Homo sapiens: one gene and its partner. The protein of the gene in region 1 purifies or fractionates together with the protein of each later gene. This does not show direct contact. Each region holds a gene or a part of one and is shown in the gene's direction. Other genes may lie near its edges. The genes, in order: SYT5 and PALM2AKAP2.

Region 1 (10,825 bases):
TTTGAGACAGAGTCTTGCTGTCACCCAGGCTGGAGTGAAGTGGCACCACCTCCGCTCACTGCAACCTCCACCTCTCGGGTTCAAGCAATCCTCCCGCCTCAGCCTCCCTAGTAGCTGGGACTACAGGCGCCCGCCACCATGCCTGGCTAATTTTTGTATTTTTAATGGCGACCGGGTTTCACCATGTTGGCCAGGCTGGTCTTAAATTCCTGACCTCAGGTGATCCACCCACCTCAGCCTCCCAAAGTTCTGGGATTACAGGTGTGAGTCACTGCACCCGGCTGTGGGTCCCTTTGAGAGTCCTCCTGGCCTGCTCCCTGCAGCTGAGGTCCCTCCGCCCCTCTCAGTCCCTGTGTAGCTCCCAAGGTCTGCCTGCGTCTCGGCATGACTTTTGTCCATGGGTCTTGGTCTTGTCTCTGTGCCTCTCTGGGTCTCTCTGCCTGTGGTCTTGTCTCTGTGCCTCTCTGGGTCTCTCTGCCTGGCTAATGCTGGCCTCTTCTCCTAGATGACTGGTCCCGGGTGCCCCTGAAGCCCATCCATGAGGAGCCAGGCTCTGACTACATCAATGCCAGCTTCATGCCCGTAAGGTCGTGGTTGGGATTGAAAGGGTGCCCAGCACGCCTGGAGAGATAAGAGCTCGGGGATCAACTAAAGGCCCCCCTGACCCGCCTGCCTTCCTCAACCAGGGTCTCTGGAGCCCCCAGGAGTTCATTGCAACCCAGGGTCCCCTGCCACAGACAGTGGGTGACTTCTGGCGCCTGGTGTGGGAACAGCAGAGCCACACCCTGGTCATGCTGACCAACTGCATGGAGGCCGGCCGGGTGAGAGATCTGAGTCCTGGGTGCTGACTGGGTGCAGGACCCCGCCCCGAACACTCATCCAATGTAGACCCCACACCCAGACCTTACGGATTCCTCCAGGGTAACCCCAGGCGTCTTCAGTGTAGACCTGTTCCCCACTCTCCCCCCAGCCCATCTGCTGGTTCACATTTGGGGCCTAAAGCAGACCCCACAGACCTGGGTAAGAGGAGTTGTGTTCTCTGACCCCTCCTCCTCCCCCAGGTGAAGTGTGAGCATTACTGGCCTCTGGACTCGCAGCCCTGCACCCATGGGCACCTGCGGGTAACCCTGGTAGGTGAGGAAGTGATGGAGAACTGGACGGTGCGGGAACTGCTGCTCCTCCAGGTGCGTGTGTCCAGCCCCGTCCTGGCCCTCAGCCTTCCCCTGTGACATATGCCATGCATCCAGGACCCTCCACCAACTCCAACCTTCCACCCACTCCTCTGAGGAGCTGCAGTGTGCCCCAGGGAACCCGCTCCTGGTGCTAGAAGCCAGGTCCTCCCTACATTCATCTCCAGAGCCTGTGAGTGCTCCCTCCTTCCAGGTGGAGGAGCAGAAGACACTGTCTGTGCGCCAATTCCACTACCAGGCCTGGCCGGATCACGGCGTTCCCTCCTCCCCAGACACCTTGCTGGCTTTCTGGAGGATGCTTCGGCAGTGGCTGGATCAGACCATGGAGGGAGGCCCACCCATTGTGCACTGCAGGTGGGGACCAGCCCAGGACCCTCTCCCTTGAGAGAACCGCTCCCTTGGGGCTCAGACAGTTGTGTTAGACGGGACCCTGGGAACGTACAGGGGAGGTGAAGAGGGAGAGAAGGAGGAGGTGGATGTGGAAGATAAAGGGGGGCGTGAAGCAGATTAAGAAAAGAAAGGGGATAAGGATGAAAAGATGGGAACGAAAGATGAAAAGGCAGGCCAGGAGCGGTGGCTCATGCCTGTAAATCCTAGCACTTTGGGAGGCCAAGGCGGGTGGATCACTTGAGTTCAGGAGTCTGAGAACAGCTTGGCCAACATACAAACCTTGTCTCTACTAAACATACAAAAATTAGCCGGGTGTCGTGGCGGGCACCTGTAATCCCAGCTACTCAGGAGGCTGAGGCAGGAGAATCACTTGAACCCGGGAGGCAGAGGTTGCAGTGAGCTGAGGTCGCACCACTGCACTCCAGCCTGGGTGACTCTGTCTCGATTAAAAAAAAAAGGAAAAAAAGAAAGATGAAAAGGTAAAGGCAGAGAAGGTTGAATGCAGAAGAGAAGGGAGAAAGGATGAAGCCACAGGATGGGGATGTGGCCACAGATTCTGAGAAACACTGGAGACACTTCCCTGTGCTGGAGTGCAGGGCCTCCCCCATCAACTGCTTCCCTGATATTTATTTTATTTTATTTATTTTATTTTATTTTATTATTTTATTTTATTTTATTTGAGATGGAGTCTCTCCCTGTCGCCCAGGGTGGAGTGCAATGGCGCAATCTCAGCTCACTGCAACCTCTGCCTCCCGAGTTCAAGCAATTCTCCTGTCTCAGCCTCCCGAGTAGCTGGGATTACAGCTGCTCACCACCACACCCAGCTAATTTTTGTATTTTTAGTAGAGATGGGGTTTCACCATGTTGGCCAGGCTGGTCTCGAACTCCTGACCTCGTGATCCGTCTGCCTCTGCCTCCCAAAGTGCTGAGATGACAGGCGTGAGCCACCGCACCTGACCCTTTCCTGATATTTATGCTGAAGTCCCGTAGGTCAGATTTCACCTAACGGTAACTATTAGGGAGATGAGGAAGAGTAACAGCCCCTGAGACTGGGGCTCTGGTTTCAGTCACAGTGAACATTTACACAGTTCTACTGCTCCTCATGACAGTCTCATGGCAAAAGGGTGTCCTCCCCATTTTATTTTATTTTATTTTATTTATTTATTTGTTTGTTTATTTTGGAGGCAGAGTTTCGCTCTTGTTGCCCAGGCTGGAGTGCAGTGGCATGATCTCGGCTCACTGCAACCTCTGCCTCCTGGGTTCAAGCAATTCTCCTGCCTCAGCCTCCTGAGTAGCTGGGATTACAGGCATGTGCCACCACGCCCGGCTAATTTTGTATTTTTAGTAGACACGGGGTTTCTCCATGTTGGTCAGGCTGGTCTCAAACTCCCAACCTCAAGTGATCCGACCACCTCGGCCTCCCAAAGTGCTGGGATTACAGGCGTGAACCACTGTGCCCGGCAATGTCCTCCCCATTTTAGAGCTGAGTGGATGTCATCACATCATTCCATTAGTGTGCATATCCAGAAGCATATCTAGATCAGCCAAAGCAACAGAGACACTGAAGAGATTAGTAGCTTCCAGGCCCTGGAGGGTGACAGGCAATAGGGAGAGACGGCCTAATGGGCGTGGTGTCTGCTTTAGGGGTGATGAAAGTGTTTTGCAAGTAGATAGAGGTGGGGGCTGCACAGCGTTGTGAGTGTGACAAATTGCTCACGTTCAAATAGCTATTTTTTTTTGTGGAGACAGAGTCTCGCTATGTCACCCAGGCTGGAGTGCAACGGTGCGATCTCCGCTCACTGCAACCTCCACCTCCCAAGTTCAAGCAATTCTCCTGCCTCAGCCTCTTGAGTAGCTGGGAATACAGGTGCCTGCCACCCCGCCTGGCTAATTTTGGTATTTTTAGTGGAGATGAGGTTTCTTCATGTTGGCCAGGCTGGTCTCCAACGCCTGACCTCCGGTGATCCGCCTGCTTCAGCCTCCCAAAGTGCTGGGATTACAGGCGTGAGCCAGTGCGCCCAGCTTAAAATAGCTAATTTATTTATTTATTTATTTTTGTGGGGGACGGAATCTTGCTCTGTCGCCCAGGCTGGGAGTGCAGTGATGTGATCTCGGCTCACTGCAATCTCCGCCTCCCGGGTTCAAGTGATTCCCTTGCCTCAGCCTCTCGAGTAGCTGGGACTACAGGCGCCCGCCACCACACCCGGGTAATTTTTTTTTTTTTTTGGTACTTTAGTAGAGACGGGGTTTCACCATATTGGCCAGGATGGTCTCAATCTCCTGACCTCGTGATCCACCCACCTCAGCCTCCCAAAGTGCTGGGATTACAGGCGTGAGCCACTGTGCCCAGCCTAAAATAGCTAATTTTTTCACTGGGCACAGTAGCTCATGCCTGTAATCCCAGCACTTTGGGGGGCTGAGGTGGGAGGATCACTTGAGTCCAGGAGTTTGAGACCAGCCTGGGCAACATGGCAAGACCCCGTCTCTATTAAAAAGTTAATAAGTTAGTCAGATGCAGTGGTGCATGCCTGTGATCCAAGCTACTCAGGAGGCTGAGACAGGAGGATCACTTGAGCCCAGGAGGTCAAGGGTGCAGTGAGCCGAGATCATGCCACTGCACTTCAGCCTTCGTGACAGAGAGAGATCCTGTCTCAAACAAAACAAAAGACTAATTTTTGTGTTTAAAGGAATTACTAAATGATTGGCTGGAGAGTTCCTCTTCCTGTATTTGAACCCCGGCTCTGCCACTTATTAGCTGAGTGGCCTGGGGAATGGGACTTCACCTCACTCAGCCTCCATTTCCCCATTTGTACAATGGAGCTAGTACATCCGACTTCTTAGGTTTGGGAGGAGTGAAGAAGGCCCATCAGGCACTTAGAACAGAGCCTAACAGATGGAAGGAACTCCAGGCAGTTTTGTTGTTGTTGTTGTTGTTGTTTTTGAGATGGGAGTTTTGCTCTTGTCGCCCAGGCTGGAGTGCAGTGGTGTGATCTTGGCTCACTGCAACCTCCACCTCCTGGGTTCAAGCGATTCTTCGCCTCAGCCTCCCAAGTAGCTGGGATTACAGGCATGCGCCACCATACCCGGCTAATTTTTGCATTTTTAGAAGAGACGGTTTTGCCAGGTTGGCCAGGCTGGTCTGGAACTCCTGACCTTGGGTGATCCACCGGCCTCAGCCTCCCAAAGTGCTGGGATTACAGGTGTGAGCAGGCATAGTTATTGTCATCATTCAAACACAGATCCCTCCAATCAGCCATGACCCCGGACCCTCACACTCCTGCCCCTTGGTCTGACCCTTCCCTTGTTCTGCCTAGTGCTGGCGTGGGTCGCACAGGAACCCTCATTGCCCTGGACGTCCTGCTCCGGCAGCTGCAGTCCGAGGGTCTCCTTGGGCCCTTCAGCTTTGTAAGGAAGATGAGAGAGAGTCGGCCGTTGATGGTGCAGACTGAGGTGAGGCAGTCCCTCAGCAACACAGGACGGGAGGCAGTGGGACGAGGGACCCTGGGGCTCCACGCAGCTCAGACCTGGGGGGACGCCTCTCACTCCCGTGCCTGCTTCCCAGGCTCAGTACGTATTCCTGCATCAGTGCATCCTGCGGTTCCTCCAACAGTCAGCCCAGGCCCCAGCCGAGAAGGAAGTCCCGTATGAGGATGTCGAAAACCTCATCTACGAGAACGTGGCCGCCATCCAGGCCCACAAGTTGGAGGTCTAAGTGACGAGGGGGCTGGGTCGGCAGCCCAGGCATCCTCAAGCTCTGGACACCCACTTGAGCCCAGATTCCTGGAAGAGCAGAGGGCTGGGCTCCCAGACTCCTGGGTGCTGTGGGAGGAGGGGGCTGGTATCCCAAACTCTGGTTTCCCCAGGAGAGAGTGGTCTGGTGGGCTTCAGATGAGTCCTATGGGAGCTGGGGATCTGGATTCCTGGTTCCCTGAAGGAGGAGAGGGATGATAGCTTGGATTCCCTAGGTCTTTCCAGGATGCAGAAAGAAACAGGCTGGGGCCTGGATTCTGAGGCAGGAAGGAATTTGGGTCTGGAGTTCTGGCTACTTGAGGACCAAAGGCAGGAAGGATCCTGCCTTGATTTTACTTCAGAAACCAAATCAGTCTTCTATAATCTGGGGTCGGAGGGAGTCCCTGTGCCCAAGGTCTCTCTGCACCCCACCATCCACATGTATTTTTCCTTCTATCCCATAATTTATTAAATCACTGTTCTCCCCAGAGACAGTTGTCCCATGGATTTCTGGGTCTGGAAATAATATTGGATTGGGAGTAGGGATGGGTTCCTGGTATCTAGGGATCGAGGCGAACGTCCAGGAGGGGACTAGAGGGACCCACACATTTGCACATGAAAAAATGTAGGTTTGGGTGGTTGAGTCTCTCAGAGAAGGCAGTGTCCAGACGTCTGTGTCCAGGGTCTGGGCAGTATGGACAGGGCTCGCTGGAGCTAGGTGCTTGGGGACTTGCCTTCTGAGCTTTTCTTTTACTCTTCTCTGTTGTTGTTGTTGTTGTTTTGTTCTGTTTTTGTTTTTGTTTTTGAGACATGGTCTTGCTCTGTTGCCCAGACTGGAGTGCAGTGGCTCACTGCAGCCTTGACCTCCTGGGCCCAGGTGATCTTCCCACCTCAGCCTCTAGAGTAGCTGCCATCACAAGTGCGCACCACCACGCTGGCTCATTTTTGTAGAGACGGGATTTTGCTATGTTGCCCAGGCTGGTCTCCAGCTCCTGGGCTCAAGCATTCCTCCTGCTTCGGCCTCCCAAAGTGCTGAGGTTACAGGTATGAGCCACCGCACTGGCCGCCTCCTGGGACTGGTGTTAGGGGAACTTAGAGGGCGATGTCTGGGGGCTGATAGCTGGGGACTTTGATGCTGAACCCTGCAGAGTCTGGGTCTCCAATGGGGGTCTGGGGTCTCCTAGGTCCTAGGACTGAGTATCCTGGCATGCCGTTCTTTGGGCTATACAGGGTGTGTGTCGTGTGTGTTGGGGCGGGAGGAGTGGAGTGGTCTGGACGGCCAACGACTGGACCAGAAGGCAGAAAATGCTAAAGCACCAGGATAAACATCTGTGGGCGTCATCGAGGTTCCCGGGTGGAGGCGGGAGGAGGGGCGGGGCAGGGCTTTCCGCCTACCCGAGACCAAATACGGGCACACACAATACACACCACACACGCGCGCACACGCACACGGGCACACACGCGCGCACGGGATCCTGCTCCGCTCCGCGGCTCCCCCGCCCCGGAGAGCTCCGCGATCAGCACCCGGGACAGCGCCACCGCCCACGTGCAGGGGGTGGGGTCCGGGCGGGGCTGGCGCCTCGGCGTCTCCCGGGAGTGTCCCGTCCAGCCGCCGAGCAGGTAGGAGCTGCTGGGACCCCCGCCCTCAGCCCATCCGCATCCGCATCCCTAGAGGAAAGGGGTGTGCGAGTGGGGGCTGGGGCACTGGGGAGACAACCAGAGGGAGGGCAGCAGCCTGAAGCGGAGAGACAGGGATCTGGGGACGCGAGACAGGTATGGAGAAGACAAAGAGCCGAGGGCGGGGAGTGGGGCGCAGGCGGAGGGGAGAGGGAGAGACCCTGGAGACAGAGGCCAGGCGATAGGGAAGAGAGACAGGCGGGTTGGGGAGGCAGACACAGGGAAGACGCCTATGTGGGGTCAAGAGGCAGCGTGGAGACCGAGGCGGTCACGAGAGCAGCACGGATGCGTGGAGAGACCAACAGGCCAAGAAGGATGAGGGGGCTCAGCACAGGCACCGGGCAGCCCCCGACCCGCCCTCCAGCAAAATTGGGGAGAGGGAAGAGGGAACCTGCGTCTCAGCTCCCAGGACCAGGTGCGGAGGGAGCAGTCGGCTGTGGGCGCTCGGACCACAGGCTGCCCGCTCCCCACCTCGCGGGACCTCAGGATCCCAGTCGGGCTATTGGGGGGTTCCCAGGCACCGGTGGGCCCCGGAGCGAGCCTGCCCCGCCGGGACTCCGCGTCTGTGCGTCAGCCCCGCCCGTTGTCCTGGCAACAACCCGTTGCCCGGGCAACCAGCTTTGCTCTCACCCCGCTTGAGAGGAGCCCGGCTGTTGCTCTGGGCAACGCGGTCTGCTGGTTCCCACGTCTGCCTTCGCCCGCTTCCGGTTCAGACCCTGCGGAGGGGCGAGGACGAGGCAGAAGTCAGCGGGATGCCTGTGGGGCCGTGGAGGAAGAGGGTATCCCTTTAGGATGGAACTAGGTCCTGGACACCCCCTCTCAAGTGCGGGGAGGCTGATACTACAACTCCCAGCATGACTCGCGGTGGCTGTCCGGTTTCTGCGCGGCTGTTCGCGCAAAGGCCTCATGGGAGTTGGAGTTCTTTGTTGTGCGTGGGGCTCAAAGGACGTCTGGGGTGGGAATGGGGGACTAGGGTGCTTGAGTGTCTCTGCAGAAAAGACTCCAGGACCCCGCCACCATGTTCCCGGAGCCCCCAACCCCGGGGCCTCCATCGCCCGACACGCCTCCCGACTCCAGTCGCATCAGCCACGGCCCAGGTGAGCAAGACCCGGGGGTGGGGGGCCGAGCAGAGAGAAAGCCTGGCCAGGATTCCGAGGGGCGGGATTCGGACGGGTGTACTCGGGCAGGCGGGCTGGAAAATCCGGCTGGGATCCCGGGTCGTCATCCTGGACTGGAATGCGAACGAAATGGGGTAAAAGGAAGGAACAGATTTGCAAAAAAAAAAAAAAAAAAAAAAAAAAAAAAATCGAAACCGGATCAAGGGGTGTTGCATGGAATGGGATCTTAGAATTGGAAGGTCCACCTAGCTCTTCTTTTACAGATAAGGAAACAGGCCCGATGAGGAGCAGGGCTTCTTGTAAAAGCATCAGGAGTTGAGCAGAAATGGGGGGCGGGGTCGGGTAAGGAAAGGCAGAACTAACAAGCAAGCAAATCCAGATGGTGTCAGCCTGGGTTGGGGCATCGAATCTCTCTATAGGCCACATTAGGTGGAAGAAAAACACAGGAAGAAATGCAATGAAAATGGCTGGAGGGAAAAGGAGGCCAGCATTCCAGCTTCCACGTGTAATCAGGACTGAATCAGCCTGCGTGCTGCCCAGGCCTCAATGTGTGTTGTCTCCACCCCTCTGCAGTGCCCCCCTGGGCCCTGGCCACCATCGTGCTGGTCTCAGGCCTCCTCATCTTCAGCTGCTGTTTCTGTCTCTACCGGAAGAGCTGTCGGAGGCGGACAGGCAAGAAGAGCCAGGCCCAAGCCCAGGTCCACCTTCAGGAAGTGAAGGGGCTGGGCCAGAGTTACATAGACAAGGTGTGGCCCAGCCCAGCCCCTCCACCTGGCCCCTTCCCGCACCCTGCTCCTCTCAATGGCCCAGCTGGTCCCAGTCCCTGCTCCCTTCTGTCCTATAGGAACCCACCTTACTGGCTCATCCTCCCTGTGTGTCTAGCCCTCAACTGGACTCTGGGGACCCAGAGATGGAACAGAACTAGTTGCTATTCCCAAGAACTTCCCAGTCTGGTGGGAGAGTCAGGCACTGACACAGACACTCACCACACAGGGTAATATGTGCCATACTACAGGGTCTCATAGGAGCACAGAAAAGGCATCCCACTGTATAGAAACCTACAGAAACATATAAATATTTGGCTCTGGGCCGGGTGCGGTGGCTCACGCCTGTAATCCTAGCACTTGGGAGGCTGAGGTGGACAGATTGCCTGAGGTCATGAATTCAAGACTAGCCTGGGCAACATGATGAAACCCTGTCTCTACTAAAAATACAAAAGCCAGCCATGGTGGTGTGGTATAATCCCAGCTACTCGAGAGGCTGAGGCACTGAAACCGGGAGGTGGAGGCTGCAGTGAGCTGTGATCGCGCCACTGCACTCCAGCCTGGGTGACAGAGCGAGACTCTGTCTCCAATAAATAGATAAATAAATAAATGGCTCTGAAAGCTGAAAACCAGCTTTGTGCCAGAATACTTTAAAATATGCTGATTTTTTTCAGAAAATGGGACATATTTACAGTAGGAAAAAGTTTAAAACAGAGGGTCAGACAGAGGAGGCTTCGTGGTGGAGGTGACTTCTGCACTGAGACCTGAGGGACAGAGTTAACTGAGACCAGAGAGAAGGACATTCTAGTCCAAGTTGGAGCATGTGTTGAGGCCCCATATCCAGATTCAGGCCCCATATCCAGATTCTGAGGCTTATTTGGGGAACAAAGAGTCATTTCTCACAATAGCTGCACTCTGGAGTGAAGTGTCTGGAGAACTCAGCAGTATCCATGTCATGAAGGTGATGAAGGCTACAAATATGTTTTGAGCATGAGAGGGACAGGGTCAGATGGTGTTAGGATGACTCCTCTGGAACCCTGTGTAGGACAGATCTGCGGCGAGGGATCCAGGGACGAGGCCAGTGCAGCAGCAGCCTGGAGAGGATAAAAGACATTTGCATTGGATGAGGCCGTTGGAATGGAAAGTGGTCACTGCAGGGTCTGAAAATTAAGTCTCTCAGTGCAGAGTGCAGTGGTTGCCTGGGAGCCAGACAGCCCTAGGTTTCCAACCAAGAAGGACCATTTCCTGGTTGTGTGACCTTGGAGAACTCACTGTCCCTCTCTGAGCCTCAAGTCTGTGGTCACTAACTTGGTATTTCCCCTCCTTCCTTCTCAATAAGGAGCTGTTCAATTAGCATCCGTAAAGGATGCTATTTAGGGTCCTGGTGTCCAGCCCCATCCCTGTCCCTTAAACCAGTGATGTTCAAAGACCGTCTGCAGCAGAATCACACTGGGTACTTGTTGAAATGCAAATTCTGGCACTAGCACCTGACCTATCAAGTCAGAATCCCTGAAGAGGTGACCTCAGACATTTTGCCACAGGATTCAGGGGAATTCAGGTTCACATTGAATTTTAAGAATTGCTGGCCTAGGTTAAGGAGACACCTTCTGCTTTTTCATTCAACTTTAGAATGGCAAGTACACAGTAAATATGCCATTTCTCCTCCATGTTTTGCTGTGCTAAGATCACAAGTAAACATGGCAGTTTGGACTAGCACCCCAGTACATCCATTAGCATGTGAAATAAAACCTGCATTATTCCTGTGGGCAATGGGACACTATCAGCACTTGTTTTAATCTAAGCATGACAAGCACATGTCTAGTTCCTGCCCATAGCAGACACCACTAATCAAACCTTCACAAACATACTGCATCTGTGTTACCACGTCTATTTCCTGCCTGTGGCAGACAGCACTAGTCAAATACTGAATCTGCTTAGCCTGTGAGAGCTCAGGTAT
Region 2 (12,176 bases), on another chromosome or scaffold:
CCCTCTTTCTCAAACGCCTCAAATCTGAAATGTCTTGGAGACTTCACCACTGAAGTGAGAGAGATGTTTGCTGGCAATATTGAAATGCCATGGTTTGCCTATTAGGTAATCTTTGAACGTGGTGCTCTGAACTCAGAAAGGTTGTTTTTTTCTTCTTTCTCTTTCCCCCTGTGCATGTGTATTTTGATGGTTTGTGAAGTTATTTGTGGTTTCTAAAGTTGGTGGCAAGGCAGCATGGCCAGTGTGTCATGAACTTGATAAGAATGGTGATATTGAGTTAATGGTGCCATGTAGCTGGTGGGTGTTTTGTGTGAACTGGATAATAGGCTGCTTTAACTGTTGATGCAGTGGCTGTTCCCATTGGCTGCTGCTGAAGGCTTCCAACAGTTGTCACATTTTCTGCCTTTGCACAACCAGCTTTACTGGATGCCTGAGGAACAGCTGAACTCCATGAAAGGACTTGCTTTCCAAACATGGAGCCAGTAGCTGCTAACACTGGGGTACCCTTTTCCAAGTGCGGTTGAGTAATCCCAGCAGAGGCCAAGTCGATTTTCCAAGAAAGATCTAGGCAAATCTTTGGGAATTCTCTTGAGCATATAAGAATACACACAAATACTCACTTGTGCCTCTTCAGTTATTGAAGAATTGAGTTTGTCCTGTGTATCTGGGGAGCTGTTGATTATTCTCATGAATGTGCACCTAATACAGTCTGCCCTCCCTATTCATGGGTTCCATATCCACGCCTTCAGTCAATCTTGGATTGAAACTATTGGAAAAAATAATAGATAGCTGAGTCTGTACTGAACATGTACAGACTTTTTCTTGTCACCATTCCCTAAATAATACAGTATAATCAACTGTTTACGTCGCATTTACAGTGTATTAGGTATTATAAATAATCTGAAAATGATTAATGTATGTGGGAGGATGTGAGTAGGTTATATGCAAATACCATGCTATTTTATAGGGACTTGAGCATCCTTTGATTTTGGTATCCAAGGGGGTCCTGAAACCAATTCTCTGAGGATACTGAGGGATGACTGTATGATGTTGTCAGGACAGATTTGCTAACAGCGTGTGTTTGTTTGTGTGTGTGTGTGTGTGTGTGTGTGTGTGTGTATGTGTGTGTGAGAGAGAGAGCCAATTAAGAGACAGAGGGAGTTGGGTGGGGGGACTTATGGCCACATCGGTAAATGGTTTTATGCTATGCTTTGGTCTAGTGCCTACTCTTCTGAATTCTGCAAACCCTGACTCTCTCATCACTTTCCTGGAGTTCTCAGGGGACCCTGAGGAGATCACAAGCCTGCCCCCAGAACCTAGCACTCCTGAAGTCTCTCTGGAGATGTGAGGGAAGAAGACAATAGGTCCTCACATCTTCACTTACTTGGGCTTCTCTCTCAGAGGCAGAGAATCGACTGGGATTCCAGTCTGCAGGGCCTTGGGCAGTCTTTAGTCTGGGTCTCAGCTCCTTCATCTGTAGAATGGGTTCATGAGTTCTACCTCCTGGGCTGGTTGTAAGGTTTAGTTAGGATGGAGGTGAAGCACCTGGCAGGTAGCTGTCATTGGATGGTGTTGAGCAGAGCCCTTAGCTTTTGTCTGTATTGCTGTCTTGTCCTGTGGGGGGTCAGAAGCAACATCTCTGAAGTGGAATGTGTATTAATGACTTTTTTTTTTTTTTAGACAGAGTCTCACTCTGTCACCCAGGCTGGAGTGCTGCCATGACAGCTCGCTGCATCCTGAAACCATCCTCCCACCTCAGCCTCCCCAGTAGCTGGGATTACAGGCATGTGCCACCATGCCCAGCTAATTTTTAAATTTTTTGTAGAGATGGGGTTTCGCCATGTTGCCCAGGCTGGTCTGGAACTCCTGACCTCATGTGATCCTCCCACCTCTGCCTCCCAAAGCACTGAGTTTAGAGACATGAGCCACTATACTTGGTCTGAACAGCTCTTTTTTAATCCCTTCCTTCAACTGACTGAAAGTCAGGGCCCTGCCCAGCATCACTTTCTCTAACTGCTTTAGACAGAGGCAGAGATATGACTTGAGGATTCATTCATCCATTTGTTCAGTAGGTATTTACAGATTGCCTCCTCTGGGAAGGTATTGGCAACACTGAAAAGTTGGTGTCCCCAGGTTTCAGCTGCCTGAGGCTGAAACCTTTATTTCACCTTTTGCACATAATTTCTTGAAGGACAGATGTCCTGATACCTAAGATGCTTGTCACATGAACATCTGTGGAATATCCGCCCCCACCAACAAAACTGAATTAAATACTTAGAAACTACAGTGCTTTAATGGAATCTTCCATTTGGATCCAGGAACTAATCAATGAGAAAAGATGACTCTTATCCTAATTTCTGCCAAAAGAAGAGCAAGTCCATCTTTGACAATGATCTCTACACTCACATGCTCCTTTCTTCTGTAGGGATACTCCCCAAACTTTACATTTAGAACATGGTAAAAAGCCTCTGAAACAGCATGAGTGAGAATGGTAATCCCAGGGACTAATAACAACAATTGCCATTTATTGAATATTGTTCATTCAGAAAGGCACGGTGTGAAATACTTTTTGTTTTTCACCTAACGTTATTTATAGTCTAATGGAAGAAATAGAAAAGCACATAAGCAGTTACTATCCAGGAGTACTATGAAAATGAGCATCCAGGAGGAACATGTAAACCAATCTCAGAGTTGTGAAACAATTCCCCAAAAAGAAGACATTAGAGTAAGTCCTGAAAATTGGGTAAAATAAAATATAAAATAACATCATAACCTTCCCAATTACCAGGAGGCATTTGTTTATTCGTTATTTGATTATTATTTATTCAGGACATTTAGTGTGAGAAAGGGAAAGGCAAAAGCATGAAGAAGTTAAGTCAGTAGCTAAAGACACAAACTCAGAGTGAACACTGAAATGCTTTTCAGCATGTATTATCTCATTGAATCCTAATAAGAAGCTTATGAGGTAGGCACTACAGTATTACTCATATTTTATAGGTGAGGAGGTTCTAGAACTGGTCTAACATTAAACTGATAGTATCAAAGCCAGGATTTGAATGCTGCCCGCAGCAGGCCATTGGAGCCTTTGCTTTGACTGCTGCCCTGAGCTGCCACCCAAGATGGCGGCAGCGTCTCGCACTTTTCCCATGAGCACACTGTGCAGGTGGTCTCAGCAGCCTGAGTGTGAGCCACAGACTGATTCCATTGCAATGGGAAAGCTTGAGACAAGCCAGGAGGCCTACCTCCTTTTGAGAGTCTTTCAAGCCTGGATTCAGTGCATAGAAATACCCAACATAAAATTTAATGGAACGAGTAACATTCCCATGGGGAAGAAGCTGTTGTGTCTCAGTGGAAACTAACCTTGTGGGAGGGTGCTGTTATGTCTGCACATTGGAGAGGAAGATAGTTTTCTTTGGGCATGAGTGAAAATAAGTAAATGTTATATAAATTGTCTTGGGTGAAACTCCTAAGAGCCACGTGGACAAGGCTCAGGCTACACCAGGGACCAGCATGAGTATGTTTATATATGTGCGGAAATAGGAAATGCTAATCTAACCTATGCTGTTCTTTAGGGAATTTTGTCATTTAATTAGAACCCACTCTGTGAAGTAATAAAAATGATCTTTGCATTTGTGCAGTACTTTATAATTTATGAAAACCTTGTATATGCTACCTTCTTCCTGAGGTGTGTAGAGCAAATCTTATACGCTTTACAGGTGAGTATTCAGAGCTATCCAAGCTTACACAGATAGAGGTGGAAGAGTTGTAGTAAATCCCAGCCTCTCCTGACTCCCAATTCTTGTATTAGTCCGTTTTCACCGTGCTGATAAAGACATACCCGAGACTGGGTAATTTATAAGGAAAAAGAGGTTTAATGGACTTATAGTTCCACGTGGCTGGGGAGGCCTCACAATCATGGCAGAAGGTGAAAGGCACATCTCACATGGCAACAGACTGGAAATGAGAGCTTGTGCAGGGAAACTCCCCTTTATAAAACCATCAGATCTCGTGAGACTGATTCACTATCACAAGAACAGCATGGGAAAGACATGTCCCCGTGATTCAATTACCTCCTACCATGTCCCTCCCACAACACGTGGGAATTCAAGATGAGATTTGGGTGGGGACACAGCAAAACCGTATCACTTGTGTTAGTGGTACATCCAGCCTTGGAAGGGTGCTTTGATACGGGCTGAAACTGCAACTAAGATCCTGCTGGACTAAAATCTTCTGGCTGGGAGGAGAGGAGTGAGCTTGGATGTGTCTCTATGGAATATGCCCTTGTTAGGATTTCACTTTCGGCCTCTTTCATTCTTGAAATTCTCACCAAGGGGTCAGCTAGTGAGTTTATGGCTTTCATCTGATTCTATTCTCAGTCCTGCATAGACCTGGGTATACGCTGTTGGCCTAGGCTGGCTGTGCCGTGGGCTTACAGAGAAGTGCTCATTGGCTTTTCGTTGGATTCGCCTCTCCATGCCTTTTCTTGCCTGGGAGCATTACAGCCTTGAGTACCAGGCTTGGAGTGTGGGGCCAGTGGCCAAGGAGGCCACCACCCTGCTTTTGGTCCAGGCCTTTTAGGCCGACCTGCACAGCATGGGCAAAAAGTCCTTGCAATGATTTACATACTATCCAGTCCAGCTTCCCAAGGATCCCTCAGAGGGGTTAGAGACTCAAACCCAAGCCCTGTAGAAACAGGCACTGTGATTCATGTGGGGACCATCCCCATCCATGTTCCTTGTGGACTTGTGTTATTGGTATGCAGCTGTCAGAGAACTGGAGAATTTAAGATCCTGGTCATTCATCTGTTATCTTATATCTCAGAGATGCAGATGACACCCTGCTTCTAAAATTCCATGTTAAGGCCTAAAAAATCATTTGCGTGGTATATTGGTGCTGAGGAAGGGTTCAACTTGGCTGAGTCTGTGAAGCTGCCCACTGGATAGGTGACACTTTGGGCCCATGCAGGGTCATTGCTGTGTCTGGGAGTGCCAAGGCAGGCCTTACCCAGCATGCATAAGGGTCACACACCTCCCTGCTACTTATTTGTACCTCTGAGTATTTCAGTCTTCAGCTTATTGGGACAAAGAGCAGCTACTCTGACAAACTTTAAAATGCTCTGAGAAATAGAGCAGTTATCATGGAAAAAAAAAGTCATCATAGAAAAAGCTAAGTGAGGGGGGTTGTGGGTTATAGTTTGTCAATATTTAAAGGAAAACCAGGGCCCAGTAGAATTGTTTCTATATTTCTTTGGGGGCTACTCAATGCTTTGGGGTCACTGCTGGCCCCTTTGAACTCTCCACATTTCACCACTGATCCCATTTGGGAATGTTGATGAACTTGCTTGGCAGTAAGAGTTGGTCATTCTGTGGCATGAAATTGACTGAGACAGCAGATGGACATTGATGCACAGAGACGGTGGTCCCAAGGGCTGTCATTGTGGTGGGGTAGTTACCAGCATGGATTTTGGTGTCAGGAAGACCTGGCGCAAGTCCTGGCCTTTCCGTTGGTATCTGTATGATGTCACTGTACCTTGGTTTCCTCACCTGTAAGATGGGGCTAATGATCATACCCACTTCAGTGTCTTGTTGTGATGGTTCTTTTAGAGGTTTCTTGGGAAATGCTCAGAGACAGCATGCATTAAGCACTCACAAACTTTCCTATTTATAATAAGCAAACCAACAAATCATAACTTATGCATCTTTAAACAGAAAGTGAACACAAAGAGTGAAAGGAGAATTTTGTTAGCCACAGCATTTTTGTCAAACTAGGAAATTAGATAAATACTAGGAAATCAGATAAATGTTGTAACTCCTGAGTTTTCAATGCATGAAGATAGTATTAATAATAAAAAATGGATTATTTGTAGTAAGCAGGAGTAGTAAACTCAACAGGTCAGGGGGCCAGCATGCAATGTAAATGAGGGACACAGATTGAGTCGAAAGTATTGGTCCCTAGAGAGCAGATGCCACCTCTCAGTTAAGATGCAGTTAATTTATGCCTTGTGAGAACGTGGGTCTTATGTTGTTACATCAACTCATTTTCAAGAGAAGCCAGAAATCTGATTTTTAACATGTGAGATCTCCCACTTAAAAAAGAACAGTATTAACTAGTTTAAAAACTTTAAAAAGATTGGCAGTCACAACACAATTCCTTTTGATCAAGAGGCCGACATTTTGTGACCTTTAGATATAGACAGAGCTTTGAACTTTACAGGATGCTTTCCTTATGCATTGATTTATTTGGATTTCATAAGGATACTGTGAAGTAAGCCTATCAGCACCCCTGAGATATTTCATAATGTTGTAATATCGGGTTGCATTTTCACCAGAGCTTTGTGAGTTTGGTGTCCAGATGTTTGGATCATTGGATAAATGGTGCTTATTTGCGATATCTTTTGACATTAAATGAGCCCTTGCAAATCACTGACATTATTGAAACTCAGAATACTCACATCTAGATAGGTAATTGCTCTCTAACTCAACCAAAACAAATCTAAACCACATCAAGTCAGCACCTTAATTTGGGAAATTCCTCTTATTAGAAAAGAATCTTTAAGAACCTATACTCAAGGTATGCAAATCTGAAATGCAAACCTGATATGAAGCCCAAGCCTAACTCATGTCAGTCAGGATGTTTGAGTTGATCCTGATTTATTATTAGCCTCAAGTAATGGACATTGTAGGGAGATTCTGCTGGGCTCAGGACTCATAGTAGCAGCAACTGCCATTTGACCGATGTTTTTGTCATATATGGTATAGAACAGTAATTCTCAAACGTTAGTGCATTAGGATCACCTGGAGGGTTCCTTAAAACACAGATTGCAAGAGCACACTCCCAGAGTGTCTAATTCTGTAGGTCTAGGGTGATGTGGCCTGAGAATTTGTATTTCTAAGAAGTTCCCAGCTGCAACTGCTATTCTGGGGAACACACTTTGAAAACGACTGGTGAAGTGTAGGAGATCAATAGTAAAGGAAGATTATGACCTGGGTCCTGATGTGCATCACATGCCCATTGTGATATGCCCAGGAGTTTGTGTGGTGTGTATATTCTGAAGAGGTGAAATAGAATAAAAGGCCAAATTTAGTCTTGATTAATGAGAGCCTTAAACATAGCCCAGTTTGGAAGTCATGCAAGCCGGGTGCGGTGGCGCACTCCCATAGTCCCAGCTACTTGGGAGGCTGAGGTGGGAAGATCGCTTAAGCCCAGGAGTTCAAGGCTGCAGTGAGCTATGATCACTGCCACTGCACTCCAGACTGGGCAAGAGTGACACCCTGTGTAACTGTGTCCTTCTCACATTACACTGGCTAATCAAGAAGAGGTCTTTGCTTATCTCGGGAACTTGCTTTAATCTATTTAAATAAAGTGAGATATCTGTTGGTTACTTGACAACACCGGTTTGGAAGGTTTGCCCAGGATTGGCTGGGCAGGTTGAGAGAGTTTGCCTGGGATTGACTGACTGAAACTATGGGCTACAAAATTCCCTTGGGGAGGCCTTAGAGGACACCTCAGTGAGATAAGAAGTCATGCAGTAGAGAAGATATCCAGCAACACCATGACAGCCCCATTGAGAGAGGCTTGCCATACATATGATGGTGTATAGATGAAGACATCAAATAGCAGATCAGCCCATCAAGCCTGGTGGCCCCTTCTCCAGCCTGCAGGTGCTAATTCGCGATGTGATTGCTTCTCACGTGGGCAACTCCAATAGGATGCCAGGAGAAGCAGCAACTGATGTTCATTTACTTAATGATGGTTAATATTTTATGAAGCCAGTCTGTGTATATGCAAGTATGACTTGTTATTGGCATATCAAGGACAAGTTTATTCTTCCAAGGATGTCATGCAGGCTTCCCTCACTTGTCTTTGTACCATGCATTTTTTGAGCTAACCCTTCATTTTTGGAAGGATTCTGCCTCACCGGATCTCTTGTATATCTTAAAACACAAAGCACAGAGGCTGCACTGTACAGGATGAGGCCTAAGAGAACGTGGAGACTGTAGGGGATGGGCCACACAGCATGGCGGAGTTTGTAGAGGAAAGGTTGCTCATAAGTGCTCTGGGTTTGGGAGAAGACCACACAGCTGAGATCTATTTCTGACAGGAAATGCCGGCAGGAGCAGAGGGTGGTGTGGGGCAGTGCGTGTTGGAGCTACAGTGCCCTTGGTTAATTATTATCTCAGTATTTCTCATTAGTCTCTTGTTGAATTAAAATGCTCAAAAGGAGATTATTAAATACACACAGAAAGGGAGACAGACTGACAGACACAGAGACAAGACTACACCCTATTTACATAATGCTTGAACATATATTAAAAATACTTTGGATTACTCTTTGACCCTAGTATCACTGTTTCTATAGGATCATATAAGTTTAGCTAGAAGAAAAGAATAGAGAATCTGTACCTTTCTTTTGCATAAGATCGAAGGGGAAAGAAAAGCCATGTGAGGCCCAAGATAAAAGCCCCAGCTGTAGATGAAAAAGCTGTGGGCCAGACGTCGGAACACATCTTCCTGTCCATCATTTCCCTTGTGGAAGCCTATTTCATTACCCTGCAGGCTTTTAGGCTCTAGACAGCTTTGCAATACCAAATATCTTGAAGGCATTTGTAAAACCTACTCTTACTTTTTTCCTGGAAAAAAAAAATTATACTGGTTTACTTACTATTCTAGGTGGGTGGGATTTTTCCCCCCTCTGCTAAATTATAACCAGTCATCTAAGTATTCACTTTATTTTTAAATTCAGGGCTGAAACTTAAAACCTTGAGGGTTACCAAAAAATGTTATTCTTAAGAGAAAAACATGCTTGAAAACTTAACCCCTTTGGTGGCAGGCAGGGGATTTTCTTTGTCTGTGTTTGAGTGCTAATGTCGACAACTTTGAGGCCAATAAATACCAAATGGGGCTCTAGGATTTGGGCAACTGTGATAGTGTGTGTGTCCTGCATGTCACATGAGAAAGAGAGAGGCCGGGATTTAAGAAAGGTGCCTCTTGGCTGGGTGGCATGAACTCAGTCAGCTGGCTTTCCCCAGGCACCTGATTGGCCTTAAACACTGAGTTTTTGTGGTGTGACTTGACATACATCTTGGGCTGATATCACGTGCTGTTTCTACTGGGGTGGGAAGTGCTTTGAAAATGTCCTTGCTCCAGTGGAACTGTGAGACATATCTAAAAAGCTTAAGGCTAATATGAGTGATGCTAAAAGGAAGTCCTGCTTATCCAGGTAAGCAAAAGCATACTCTAGGATAGCAGTGCTCCTGTAACCTGCATGGCCTATTTTTCTTTTCCAGGTGGTATGCAGGCAGTCTTGTTCATGAACATTGATGTCTGAGCATGTGTGTTCAAAATTCAGTGTTGTTAATCAAATAAAACTCACCACAAAACCCGAAGGATATTTAACAATAGATGAGATAGGTTTGGCGGAGATGGGTCAGAAGACAGAGGAGGTCCTGGAGGCAGCAGTAGAATGTACTTTCCAATCTTACTGGTGACTAGAGATAAGACACTAGTAGCCTGTTTACTCCCCATCCTTATTTACACTGGAGTGAGAATGATATATGTCAGATCAGTATTGGATGCGATGAGGGAGAATGAAGAGAAAATATTGACTCTGAAAAATACAGACAAGAGGAGGCAAAGTTGAAAGTAATGTAAACTGCTTAATCACCTGCCTTTCTCTCTTTCCACCGTCATCTCTTTCTACTTGACATGTTCCTGCTTTTGCCTCTGGATGGTTCTATCTCTCATCCCCTCTCAGCCTGGGTCCACAGAGAAAAGCAGGAAGCAGCCTGGCATGGCAGTGGAGGGAGCCTTTTCCAGCCTTCCTCCAGCAGAAGTGCGCCCTCTCCCCTATAGGGAGATAGGGCACCCCAGGCTTCAGAAAGCAAGGGAAAGATGGTACTTCATCATGTAGCTTTTCTTAAGGGGTTGGAGGGAAGGGCTCCCAGTTCCGGAGAGGGTCCATGTGCCAGCCACCCTGCTGAATGCCTTATGTTAGGGGGGTGAGATCTCAGATGTGCACAGGTACCAGGTTGACTTGGCTGAGCTTTTGGGACTGTGGTAGCCAAGAGAGGGCAGACTCCTGAGGGGACAGAGAGTGCTCAACTCCAACTGATGGGCACTGTGTGGGAATTTGAGCCCAGGGTCTCCTGCTTTTCCAAGAGAACCTGGAAATCCAATTTTGAAGGAAGTCTGTTGATGTTTAAATGCTCACAACAGTTTAAATACTGTATGGGCCAAACCAAACATAACACAGATTTTAACACAGTGTAGGCTGGATTTGTTCCCTGTCTCAATGACCCTCCCCCTCTACCCCCAGCCTGGGCCACCAGTTTTCCACGTCTGCATGTCACAACCTATTTTATTTAATTACAAAACCAATAGTATGTGGGAATGGGGGCTGGGGGGTTGGTACAGTATAAAGCTATGTGAGTTGTAGATACACTTATGTATGTTGGGCACCTTGGTGGGATCCATACCCTATAAGAAAACCATAGTCTTGGGTCAGAGTCAGGGCTGCTACTTAAATCAGTTCCTTATCCAGCATGCTGGATGAACTCATCAGTTCTCTGTAAGAAGTAAAAACTACAAGCACTCTTTAAAAAAAATGAAAATGAATGAAGAGAAAAATAGACTTATTAAATTCTTTAATTTGGAAGACTGGGTCTCGCTATGTTGCTCAGGTTGGTCCTGAACTCTTGGGCTCAAGCGATCCTTCCACCTCAGCTTCCTAAGTAGCTGGGATTATAGGCATGTGCCATTGCTCCCAGCACTAAAATTGACTTTCTTGATGTACAGCTCTCTCAATTTGAACACATGCGTAGATTTGTGCAATCACTGGTATACTCAGGCAACAGAACAGTTCCATCACCCCCAAAAGTCTCCCAGGAAGGCTGATTTTAAAACTCTAACTGGAATCTAAGTCATTCTGCTTGGGGCTACCTTATACCCTGACTTTGAAGACCCTAAAAATCAGTTGAGGGTGGGAGGGTTGACCAGAACATGAAACTTGGGTTCCCAGCCATTGGTGGGGAACTGTTTCATAATGAGCACCCTACCATACCTATATAACAAGTTTTTGCTTCTTCCTAATACATACCTTCTGCTCCAGCCTGGGTCGTCTTTTCACTATCCCCTACTAGGGTTGTTCCATTTAGCAACTAAATGTATAGGATGCCCAGTGATTCCATGGGGACATATTTATATTAAAATATTATTTGTTGTTGATCTGAAATTCACATTTAACAGGACATTCCATATTTTATCTGGCAAGCCCATCCTCTTCACATTCATGCCACATTCTCATGTAAGTTCAAAACCTACTTTCTCTGTGTTTCACCAAAGGGTGAAAATACTCTTTGAAAATACTCTTTGATTTTATTACACTTAATCTTAGCCAAAGGCCAAGAAGCGATTGTATGCTTTGATTTTAAATAGTAGCATGTTTATAGGGAGATAGGGCAAGTGTTGGAAGGATAAGAGTGCTTTCTATACACATAAATGGATTTTCAAGAAATGTTTTGTGACCAACTGGTTTTATCCTTTCCAGAGAACAAGAAATGATCTAATATGTGCTCAAGGAAGGAGGACAACTGGATTTCAGAAATTGGTTCATGTTACAGCCCCTCCTCTACCCTTTTTCTCTGGCCTGACCTTTGAATAATATAAGTCTGAAAAGACTAAACAAAGAGATTGCTCAAACTGGATGAGTTTAAAAATAACATTGGAATGCTAGCCTTCAGCAAGCCATATATCTTATACTGCACTGAGCAGGACAGTGCCCTGTGGTGGGTAGAAGATGAGTCACACAGTGATCACAACCAGATCCTTCCCAGCCTGGATACTTTGGTGGAGAGTGGTGTGATGGCTGATTTATTTGTCTTGTTTGTTTGTTGTTTCATTTTTCCATTTTACTAGTGTGATTTCAGAATCACAAGGAGGCAAGGAGGAAAATTGATTTTAGATAGCAGCTTCAGAATGAAAAATGAGTGGAAATTCCACTTTTCGGTCTAGACCAGGGACCAGCAAACAATAGCCCGTGGGCCAAATTCAGCCTGCAGCCTCTTTTCATAAGGCCTATGAGCAGTGCCTGGTTTTTATATTTTTACAAATTTGAAAAAATTCAAAAAAGGATCTTTTATGACTCATGAGATTTGTATGAAATTCAAATGTCAGCATCC

What was found.
Region 2: the proteins of SYT5 (region 1) and PALM2AKAP2 purify together in Homo sapiens (affinity purification with mass spectrometry; 3 studies listed by BioGRID and IntAct, with this or other methods). This does not show direct contact.

Annotation. Positions count from the first base shown.
Region 1 is NC_000019.10:55,176,221-55,187,045, reverse strand, and holds the start of SYT5 (synaptotagmin-5), read left to right. Parts: upstream 1-6,756; 5' UTR 6,757-6,929; exon of another isoform or gene 6,930-7,082; intron 7,083-7,697; exon of another isoform or gene 7,698-7,840; coding exon of another isoform or gene 7,841-8,004; coding exon 8,005-8,083; intron 8,084-8,677; coding exon 8,678-8,850; intron 8,851-10,825. Other genes in the region: PTPRH (receptor-type tyrosine-protein phosphatase H), read left to right, coding at 506-582, 687-821, 1,062-1,184, 1,384-1,544, 4,895-5,030, 5,143-5,292. UniProt on the Homo sapiens protein: May be involved in Ca(2+)-dependent exocytosis of secretory vesicles through Ca(2+) and phospholipid binding to the C2 domain or may serve as Ca(2+) sensors in the process of vesicular trafficking and exocytosis.
Region 2 is NC_000009.12:109,781,659-109,793,834, forward strand, and holds part of PALM2AKAP2 (PALM2-AKAP2 protein isoform 3 (PALM2-AKAP2)), read left to right. Parts: intron 1-12,176. UniProt on the Homo sapiens protein: Binds to regulatory subunit (RII) of protein kinase A. May be involved in establishing polarity in signaling systems or in integrating PKA-RII isoforms with downstream effectors to capture, amplify and focus diffuse, trans-cellular signals carried by cAMP.